Linked DNA regions of Homo sapiens. The protein of the gene in region 1 interacts with the protein of each later gene in a pairwise test. Each region holds a gene or a part of one and is shown in the gene's direction. Other genes may lie near its edges.

What was found. The genes of interacting proteins can lie anywhere in the genome.
Region 2: the proteins of BBS4 (region 1) and BHMT interact in a two-hybrid assay, tested with the Homo sapiens proteins (one study listed by BioGRID and IntAct).

Annotation. Positions count from the first base shown.
Region 1 is NC_000015.10:72,692,099-72,697,214, forward strand, and holds part of BBS4 (BBSome complex member BBS4), read left to right. Parts: intron 1-3,078; coding exon 3,079-3,130; intron 3,131-5,116.
Region 2 is NC_000005.10:79,124,305-79,129,420, forward strand, and holds part of BHMT (betaine--homocysteine S-methyltransferase 1), read left to right. Parts: intron 1-1,741; coding exon 1,742-1,924; intron 1,925-3,450; coding exon 3,451-3,679; intron 3,680-5,116.

The DNA of each region.
Region 1 (5,116 bases):
TTAGTCCTAGCCCTGAGCATTATTATGTAGGTCTTCTGATGCAATATCTAAGAGTTTCTCTAAGGTATACCTAGAAATAGATTGCTAGGTAATGGAGTAACTTTATTACTTACAGGAAACTATATGGTGGTTGTAACAATTTATGCTTCTGCCACCAGTCATGGTGGATATGAAATTATGTCTTAATGTGATAATTTACATTGCAATTTTTTTTTTTTTTTTTTTTTTTTTTTTTGAGACAGAGTCTTGCTCTGTCACCCAGGCTGGAGTGCAGTGGCGTGATCTTGGCTCACTGCAACCTCTGCCTCCTGGGCTCAAGTGATCCTTCCACCTCAGCCTCCCGAGTAGCTGAGACCACAGGCGCAGGCCACACTTGGCTAATTTTTGTATATTCTGTAGAGGCGGGGTTTCGTCATGTTACCCAGGCTGGTCTTAAACTCCTGAACTCAAGCAATCGGCCTGCCTCAGCCTACCGAAGTGCTGGGATTAGAGGTGTGAGCCACCACACCTGGCTGTTTGTTTGTTTTGAGCCTGTTCCTCAGGCTGGAGTGCAGTGGTCCAATCATGGCTTGCTGCAACTCCGCTTCCTGGGCTTAAGAGATCCTCCCACCTCAGCCTTCTGAGTAGCTAGGACTAAGGGCACCTGCCACTATGCCTGGCTAATTTCTAAAGTTTTTTTTATAGAGGCAGAGTCTCGCTGTTTTGCCCAAGCTGTTCTCAAATTTCTAGGCTCGTGTGATCCTCCTGCCTCAGCCTCCCAAAGTGCTGGGATTATAGGTGTGAGCCACCACACCTGGCTGATCTATCTGTCTTAAACTGGAGAATTGCATTTTTTTCTACCTCCTTTCTTTTTTTTAAAAAAACTGAATTTCCATCTGTTACCCCTCCCTTTCTGCTCCTCTTATTTCATGCCTTGGAAGTTATACTTTGCCTTCCTTTAATGAGTACCAAAGAAATTAAAAAATACATGTTTACTGTAAGTCCAGGCCTAAATGTTGCTACTACAGGGACCATCAAATGCTTTACTACCATCTATTGCCATCTGCAAATGTATGCCATTGTTGTTTAGTTTTGTAGTTCTTAATGTATTTTAATTAAACACCACAAATTATGCTTTTTGTTTGTTTTATTCAGTCAGTAGATGCTTAGAATACTTGCTTATTTTACCAATTCCTTTGCTTATTCCACTCCTTTGTTCTGGGATTATTTTTCTTTTTCCTAATATATTTTCATTAAAAGTTTATTTGGTGAGAATCTAAAAACTCTCAAATTCTGAAAGTTTTAAAAATTTGCCTTTGTTGTTGAAAATTAGTTTTGATGGGTGAGAGAATCTAGATCAGGTGTTAGCAAACCTTTTTTTGTAAAGGGCCAGATAGTAAATATTGTGGGCTTTGTGGGCCATAGAGTCTCTCTGACAACTACTCAGCAATGCTGTTGTAGGACAAAAGCAACCATAGACATTATGTAAACATGAGTGTGGGTATGTTCTCACAAATTTTGTTTATAGACACTGAAATTTGACTCAATTTTCATGTGTTAAAAATTATTATTTTTTGAATTTTTTTAACCATATAAAAATGTAAAAATCATTCGTAGCTTGTAGACCAAATAAACAGGATGGATTTGACCTGTGGGCCATAGTTTGCTGACCTCTGGTCTAAATTAACATTCATTTTACTTAGTACCTGACACTGGAGTAATTATTCTTATGATGTCTTATTGTGATATTGTCTTCCATTTTTAATTGTTGAAGAGCCAGCTGTCAGTCTTTTTTGTTTTTCTTTTTCTTCTTCTTTTTTTTTTGAAATGGAGTTTTGCTCTTATCGCCCAAGCTGGAGTGCAGTGGTGTGATCTTGGCCCACTGCAACCTCTGCCTTCTGGGTTCAAGCGATTTTCCTGCCTCAGCCTCCCAAGTAGCTGGGATTACAGGTGCCTGCCACCACACCCAGCTAATTTTTGTATTTTTAGTAGAGATGGGGCTTCACCATGTTGGCCAGGCTGGTGTTGAACTCCTAACCTCAGGTGATCCACCTGCCTTGGCCTCCCAAAGTGCTGCAATTACAGGCATGAGGCACGGCGTCTGGCCTTTCTTTCCTTTTTTTTTTTTTTTGAGACGTAGTCTTGCTCTGTTGCCCAGGCCGGGGGGCGATGGTACGATCTTGGCTCATTGCAACCTCTGCTTCCCAAGTTCAAGCCATTCTCCTGCCTCAGCCTCCCAAGTAGCTGGGACTATAGGCACGTGCCACCATGCCGAGCTAATTTTTGTATATTTAGTAGAGACGGGGTTTCACCATGTTGTCCAGGCTGGTCTTGAACTCCTGACCTCAAGTGATCCTCTCGCCTTGGCCTCTCAAATAACTGTCCTTTCTTTGTTGGTAATCTGGTGATATGTTTTCTTGTTTGGCTGCTTTTAAGAGCTGCTTCTTGTCTCTGGTGCAGTTCGCTATGATGTATCTAAGTATGTATTTATTTTCATTTAACCTGGTCAGGATTTGTTGAGTATCCAGAAACTAAGGATTGGTGTTTCTCATTACATCTGGAAAAATTTGAGCCATTATTTTTGCTTATATTGTGGTATGTCATAGGAAGTTGAGAAAAGAAAAATTCATTTGATGGTTTTCTATGAGGTTATAGTGGAAAATAACTATCTCCCTTTTAGAATTGAGTGCTAGACAGTTTCTGTGTAGATGATCTCATAAGCTTCCTTTTATCAAACAGCGATCACTTTTTTGGTTTGGCTGCTGAGAAGTATGGCATCAAGTATAATACTCATATGAGGTGTTTAAGAACTGAGTATATTTCTTATGCACATTTTACTATATACTATAATTATACATTAAAAATGCACATTGTAAATATTATAAATATGTGTTATACATTGTTAATAGTTTGGATAGCAAAAGTATGACTTGACATTTGTTTTTTAAACCATATTTAAAGTAACTCTATCACAATATGGATTTAATGGATTAATTGCATAATTGGTGAGCTACTGATTATTCTTGTTATTTGGATGCTTCTTTAAGTTAGCAAGTTTATATTGTGGTGCTTCAATATAGACTACTTATTTCATTTCAGAGAACTCAATTTCCTGTATCTACTGAGTCTCAAAAACCCCGGCAGAAAAAAGGTCTGTATGCAGTTTCATGGTATGTGTATGTTTGCACAGACAGATTTCTCTTTTATTTATTTATTTATTTTTTTTTTTGGAGGCAGAGTCTCACTGTCACCCAGGCTGGAGTGCAGTAGCACAATCTTGGCTCACTGCAACCTTTGCCTCTGGGGCTCAAGCAATTCTCCTGCCTCAGCCTCCCGAGTAGCTGGGATTACAGGTGCACGCCACCACACCTGGCTAACTTTTGTGTTTTAGTAGAGATGAGGTTTCACTGTGTTTGCCAGGCTGGTCTCGAACTCCTGACCTCAGGTGATCTGCCCACCTTGGCCTCCCAAAGTGTTGGGATTACAGGCGTGAGCCGCCACGCCTGGCCAGATTTCTCTCTCTTGTTGATTCTTTTATCTATTCTATATTATTTCAAAATGAGTGTTGGGAAAAGAAGTAATAGTCTAAATGTTCTGTCACATCTAGCTTTTATTTAATAGAGTTATTAGATATTAGGAGGTTGGTTTGACCTGGAAATTATTTAAATGGGGTTTGATTATTATGTAAGTGTGTACTAATTTTCTGCTTCTGGAAAAACCACTTTGTGAAGTTCCAGGTATCTTTTTGCTTTGTTGGTTTCTAGTTTAATTCTATTGTGGGTAGAGAACATTCTTTATATGGTTTGTTTTATGGCCCACAATGTGGCCTGTGTTGGTGCATGTCCCATGTACACTTGGAAATAATGTGTATTCTGCTCTTGTAGGATGTAGCATTCTGTAAATGTCAATTAGGTCAAGTTGGTTGATAGTGTTCTGTATATACTTACAATTACAGATATTCATATTCTTACTGATGTAGTTACTGATTGGAAGGGTGATAGAAGAGTGTTGAAGTGTGCAAATGTAATTGTGGATTTGTTTCTACTTTCAGTTCTATCAATTTTTGATTTGTGTATTTTGAAGATCTGTTGTTGGATGCATATACATTTAGGATTGTCTGATTTCTTGGTAAATTGACCCGTTTGTCTTTATATAATATTCCTCTTCAATTTCTGATAATATTCCTTGTTTGAAGTCTACTTTGCCTGATAATATTTTAGTTTTAGTTATTTATTTAGCTATTTTAGTTTTGCTTTGGCCAGTCTTTGAATGGTATCAACATATAATTTTCGTAGAGTAAAATTCCCTTTTTTTAGTACAAATTCTGAGTTTCGACAAATGAAACTAGCCATGTAACCACTAGTAGCACCATAATCAAGTTATAAAAGTTTAATTACTCCCCCAAAAGTCACCTTTACTTTGTAGTAAACCACTTCTTCCATTCCCAATTGCGGGCAGCCATTAATCTGTTTCTTTCTTCCTAGTTTTGCCTTTCTTGGAATGCCAAATAAATGGAATCATACATTATTATTATTTTGAGAGAGAGGGTCTCGCTCTGTCACCCAAGCTAGAGTGCAGTGGTGTGATTATAGCTCACTGCAACCTGAAACTCCTGGGTTCAAATGGTTTTCCCCAGTAGCTGGGTCTACAGGTGCATGCCGCCATGCCTGGCTAATTTTTATGTATTTTTTTTGTAGAAATGGGGGTCTGGCTCTGTTGCCCAGGCTGGTTTTGAACTCCTGGCTTCAAGTGATACTCCATCTTCGGCCTCCTGAAGTACTGGCATTACAGGCATGAGCTATTGCACCTGGGTTATGTAAATTTTTCAGTGGCTTTTAAACCTCATATAATGTTTGTTTGTTGGTTTGTTTTTGAGGCGGAGGCTCGCTCTGTCACCCAGGCTGGAGTGCAGTGGTGCAGTCTCAGCTCACTGCAACCTCCACCTCCTGGGTTCAAGTGATTCTGCTGTCTCAGCCTCCCAAGTAGCTGGGATTATCGGCATGAACCACCATGCCTGGCTAATTTTTTTATTTTTAGTACAGATGGGGTTTCACCACGTTGGCCAGGCTGGTCTTGAACTCCTGACCTCAAGTGATCCACCTGCTTTGGCCCCCCAAAGTACTGGGATTACAGGCAT
Region 2 (5,116 bases), on another chromosome or scaffold:
TTGGGAGGCAAAGGTGTGAGGATCGCTTGAGGCCAGAAGTTCAAGACCAGCCTGGGCAACATAATGAGGCCTTGTCTCTACAAAAAAATAAAATTTTTTAAAAAGGTTAAAATGCCCAGTTTTACATGATATATATTTTACCACCATTTTTAAAATGCAAAAAAAAAAAAAGGAAAGAAAAGTCCTATTTGGGAATTCCTCCCACTTTGAGAGGAGAGAGTAAAAGAATTATAATGTCATAATGCCTTCTCAAATCTTCTGGAGGAGGAAACTTCCAAAATCATGTCTAGTGATTGCCATGGTAAATCATCTGTGGTCCAAATATAGTTAAGAACATAATGACTATAAAGAAAGTTTTTGAAGAAAATGAAATATCTAAAACATAGTTTGTTCTCACTAAATCAAACTTCACAGCACCAAATTTTACAAGAATACTGTAGGAAGACAATCCCATATAGTTGTGAGTCTGGGGAGGCTGAAATGTAAATTAAAAGCTTGTCAAAATGATTGATAGGCTAGTAACCACATTGAGTAGCTGAAGTCAAAGGATTTTTGAGATTCTTTTTCCCCAAACTATTAATCCTAGACACAAAATTCCTTCTAGCAAACACGTGTCTAAAAAACTTTTTTCTAAATTACATTCTGCTGCTGTGCCCAAGAAGGCTAATGAACTTATTAAGTTGGCCTGGTGAAAAGGAATATTTATTTACACCTCAAGCAAGCAGTATGGTAAACACAGGTGTAGTCTAGCAGCTGGGAGTGTTGAAAAATTATTGTGCTTGCAACATAATGTCCAACGTTGAAAGTTTGACTACTAAAATTTGAAGTTTAAAAAAATTCTAATAATTTTTTTTTGAAAAAAGATGGATAGGGCTGGGCATGGTGGCTCACACCTGTAATCCCAGCACTTTGTGAGGCTGAGCTGGGCGGATCACAAGGTCAGGAGATGGAGACCATCCTGGCCAACATGGTGAAACCCTGTCTCCACTAAAAACACAAAAATTAGCCTGTCGTGGTGGTGTGCGCCTATAGTCCCAGCTACTCAGGAGGCTGAGGCAGGAGAATCACTTGAACCCAGGAAGCAGAGGCTGTGGTGAGCTGAGATCGTGCCACTGCACTCCAGCCTGGGCAACAGAGCAAGAGTCTGTGTCTCAGAAAAAAAAAAAAAAAAAAAGAGATGGACAGCCAAATGTGCACAAATTACACTTCAATTATACCAGACTCTTCAAAGCACTTTCACAGAAAGCACTTCCTGCCTGCTAGTAATCATTCTCACTCAAAGGTAAGAGGTTTGTGGGGAATGAGGACCTAATGCTATGCTTCCAGTTCATCATTCCAATTAAAAGCTTCCTGCTGGGTGTGGTGGCTCATGCCTGTAATCCCAGCAGTCTGGGAAGCTGTTGGATCACTTGAGCTCAGGAGTTCGAGACCAGCCTGGGCAACATGGCGAAACCCCATATCTATAAAAAAACAAACAAACAAACAAAAATTAGCCAGACGTGGTGGCACACACTTGTAGTCACAGCAACTTGGGAGGCTGAGGTGGGAGGATTGCTTGATCACTTGAGGTGGAGACTGCAGTGAGCTGAGATCACGCTACTGCACTCCAGCCTGGGCAACAGAGTGAGATTGTGTCTCAAAAAATGAAAAAAGAACTTCCTGATTCCTGATGAAGAGAGGAGAGCTGGCCCTGCTGGTTTCTGGTGCATCCCTAAGTCTATCATGTTCTTCCCACTCACAGGAGCATCCATCATTGGTGTGAACTGCCACTTTGACCCCACCATTAGTTTAAAAACAGTGAAGCTCATGAAGGAGGGCTTGGAGGCTGCCCGACTGAAAGCTCACCTGATGAGCCAGCCCTTGGCTTACCACACTCCTGACTGCAACAAGCAGGGATTCATCGATCTCCCAGAATTCCCATTTGGTAAGACCAACATTTGATGAATCATCTCAATATCTTCATTTGATATGCATATAAACTCAAGTAAATCTATACCCAGAGATCTTTTGTCATAGTGAAGAGATGGCTTGGTGTCTCCTCATGTCTTGTCCCTGGTTTCTGTCCCTGCAGCCAAAAGCCCCTTCGTATTAGAGAAGAGCAGAAGGAAAGGATGGTCCCAGCTAGCAAAAAAGATCTCTGAATTTAAATATAAAATCTAAGGTGAATCAGCATCTAAACAGACAACTAGTGAGTCATACTTTGGGGTTGGTGAGGATGCCCTTCATGGGAGAATCAACAGATATTTAGTTCTAGTTCCAGCTCTGTTGCTAAGTCCTGTCACCTTAGGAAAATCTTTAAATTCCTCTAGCTCTCAAATTCTTTATTGGGAAAATAAGATCAGACCAGTTATCTCTAAGGTCCTTTTCTCCAATTTTTAATATGGCTCAGCTACTCCAGAGTTTTGGGATTGCAGGCAAGATACCATCATCGAGTGACTGTATAACAAGTTTTAATGAAGAGACCAAGCAGATGAAGTGAGGGGATACTTGCAGTCCAGGCAGAAGGAAAAACTTTCCCAGCATGATTGGGAAGAGCGGGTGGGTTGATCTCACAAATTAAGCCAGAGTGGTCAGCAGGGGCAGAGCATGCCCAGCCTCCTATTTCCTTCTAAGGTCTTTACACCCTATCCTATATTTTATAGGGACCCTTAGACAAGTAAGATATTATAAAATACAATCACTCTGGAGGAGCCACAGAGGAAGAAAGGCAAGGCATTTGTGTTACTTACTGCTGTATAACACATTAAATTAATGCAAAATGTAGTGGCTTGAAAAACCACTTCTTATCTCACAGTTTCTCCAGGTCAAGAATTCAGGGATAGCATAACTAGGTGGTTTTGGTTCAGGGTCTCCTAAGAGGTTGGAGTCCGGATATTTGCCAGGGCTATTATCACCTGAAGGCCTGTTGGGAGCTGGGGGATCTACTTCCTAGCTCACTTAATTGGTTTTTGGGAGTTAGTGTCAGTTTCTTGCTGTCTGTTGACTGGGGGCCTCAGTTCCTCAGCTCATGGGCCTTTTCACTGTGATGCTAGAAAACATGCTTGAAACATGTGATGCTTGCAACATGGCAGCTGGCTTTCCCCAGGGTGAGTGCTCCAAGAAAGTGCAAGGCAGAAACCATGATGTTTTGTATAGCCTAGACTCTGAAGTCACATGCCAGTTCTGCCATATTCTATGGATCTCACAGACCAGCCCTGTTATAATGCAAGAGGGGACTGCACAAGAAGAAAAACATCAAAGGGCAGGGGTCATTTGGAACCTCCTGAAGGCTGGATACCACAGCATGTAAAAGTGAACATACAACACAAAGTAGCAAAGTTTTTTCTTAAATGTAAAAATTGAATATTGAAAACAATTCATTTATTGAAAATTACATACTTGTAGCTACTTATCTTGAATTTTTATGAAAAGAATGTATAATGCCTAATGGCATAATGCCACTTATTACAGGACTGGAACCCAGAGTTGCCACCAGATGGGATATTCAAAAATACGCCAGAGAGGCCTACAACCTGGGGGTCAGGTACATTGGCGGGTGCTGTGGATTTGAGCCCTACCACATCAGGGCAATTGCAGAGGAGCTGGCCCCAGAAAGGGGCTTTTTGCCACCAGCTTCAGAAAAACATGGCAGCTGGGGAAGTGGTTTGGACATGCACACCAAACCCTGGGTTAGAGCAAGGTAAGCATCTTTTTACTAACCCAAACTAATTTAGATTATGAATATGTTCAAGTGAGGCCATTTAGAAGACTGCAGCAAATTTGTTGTGTGATGATGAAGAATCAGTCATCCCCAAATTCTCTCCCAGAGATGTTTACAAAGCATCCTTATTAGGTGATTTCTGGAGATTGTTTTAAGAATATAGAACGTATTTGACCTGATTTTGGATTTTGAAAAGAAAAAGAAAAATTTTTTTAAAAATTGTTTTTAAATATAGGCTGGGTGCGGTGGCTCGCGCCTGTAATCCCAGCACTTTGGGAGGCCAAGGTAGGAGGATTACTTGATCTCGGGAGTTTGAGACCAGCATGGGCAAGATGGCAAAACTCCATCTCTACTAAAAATACAAAAAAAAAAAAAATTAGCTGGGCATAGTGGTGCATGCCTGTAATCACAGCTACTTGGGAGGCTGAGGCACAAGAATTGCTTGAACCCGGGAGGCAGAGGTTGCAGTGAGCCAAGATCACGCCACTGCACTCCAGTTTGGGCAACAGAGTGAGACCCTGTTTTAAAAAAAAAAAAAAAAAAGAATATAGCATGTAAATAAACGTAAGTGGCAATGAAATGTGATTTTGTGCTCTAGTAAAGCACCATTAGTGTGGTGCACAATACTCTTAAATTGCATTGATTTTTAAGAGTTAAGGACCACTTAAGTATAGCTAATACTGATTGTTCTATATCAAGCATGATTTTCAGAGCTGGGAATACGGTGGCAAATAAGACAGGCAAGGTCTTTGCCCTCAGAGTTTACATTCCAATGGGGAAGATGAATAATACACTAGTAAAAAAAAATGTATGTCAGGCACTGGGAAGGGCAGTAGGAATATAGAAATGAGAAGCCGTGGATTAGAGACTCACAGTCTACTGGGTAAAAGAATACGAAAGCCAATGTATTATACTGTGGTAGCTGCTTTAGTAGATGTATGGATAGAAAAGTAACAAGAGAAGAGAATGACTATCTCTGCCTAACAGAAAGATATTTTAAAAGAAGGGTTTTGGGGCTGGATTTTGAAGGCTCAATAGGCTCCTACCATATAGAGAACTAGGAAGCGGGTGGAGGACAGGTGCTCCAAGGAGAGGTAGCAGTTCCACTCTGTTCAGCAGCTATTAACAGAGCACAGCTATCTGTCAGATGCTGTTGTGGATGCTGAGGTAGCAAGCTAAACAAGGAGCTAGCAATCTAGCAGGCAGAACGATAAGCAGGTAATGTCCAATGAGTATAGTAAGTCCAAGGATGAAGATGTGCATAGGTGTGCAGGGTCTGAGCTAATGTCCCAAGGGGCAAAAGGCAGAGAGAGGGTGAATGAAGGATTTCTAAGAAAGCTGATGCCTGAGTTGAATTCTGCGAGAGGAATTACATTGCTAGAGGAACAGCCCTCAGGAAAGCACTGAGAAGTGGAA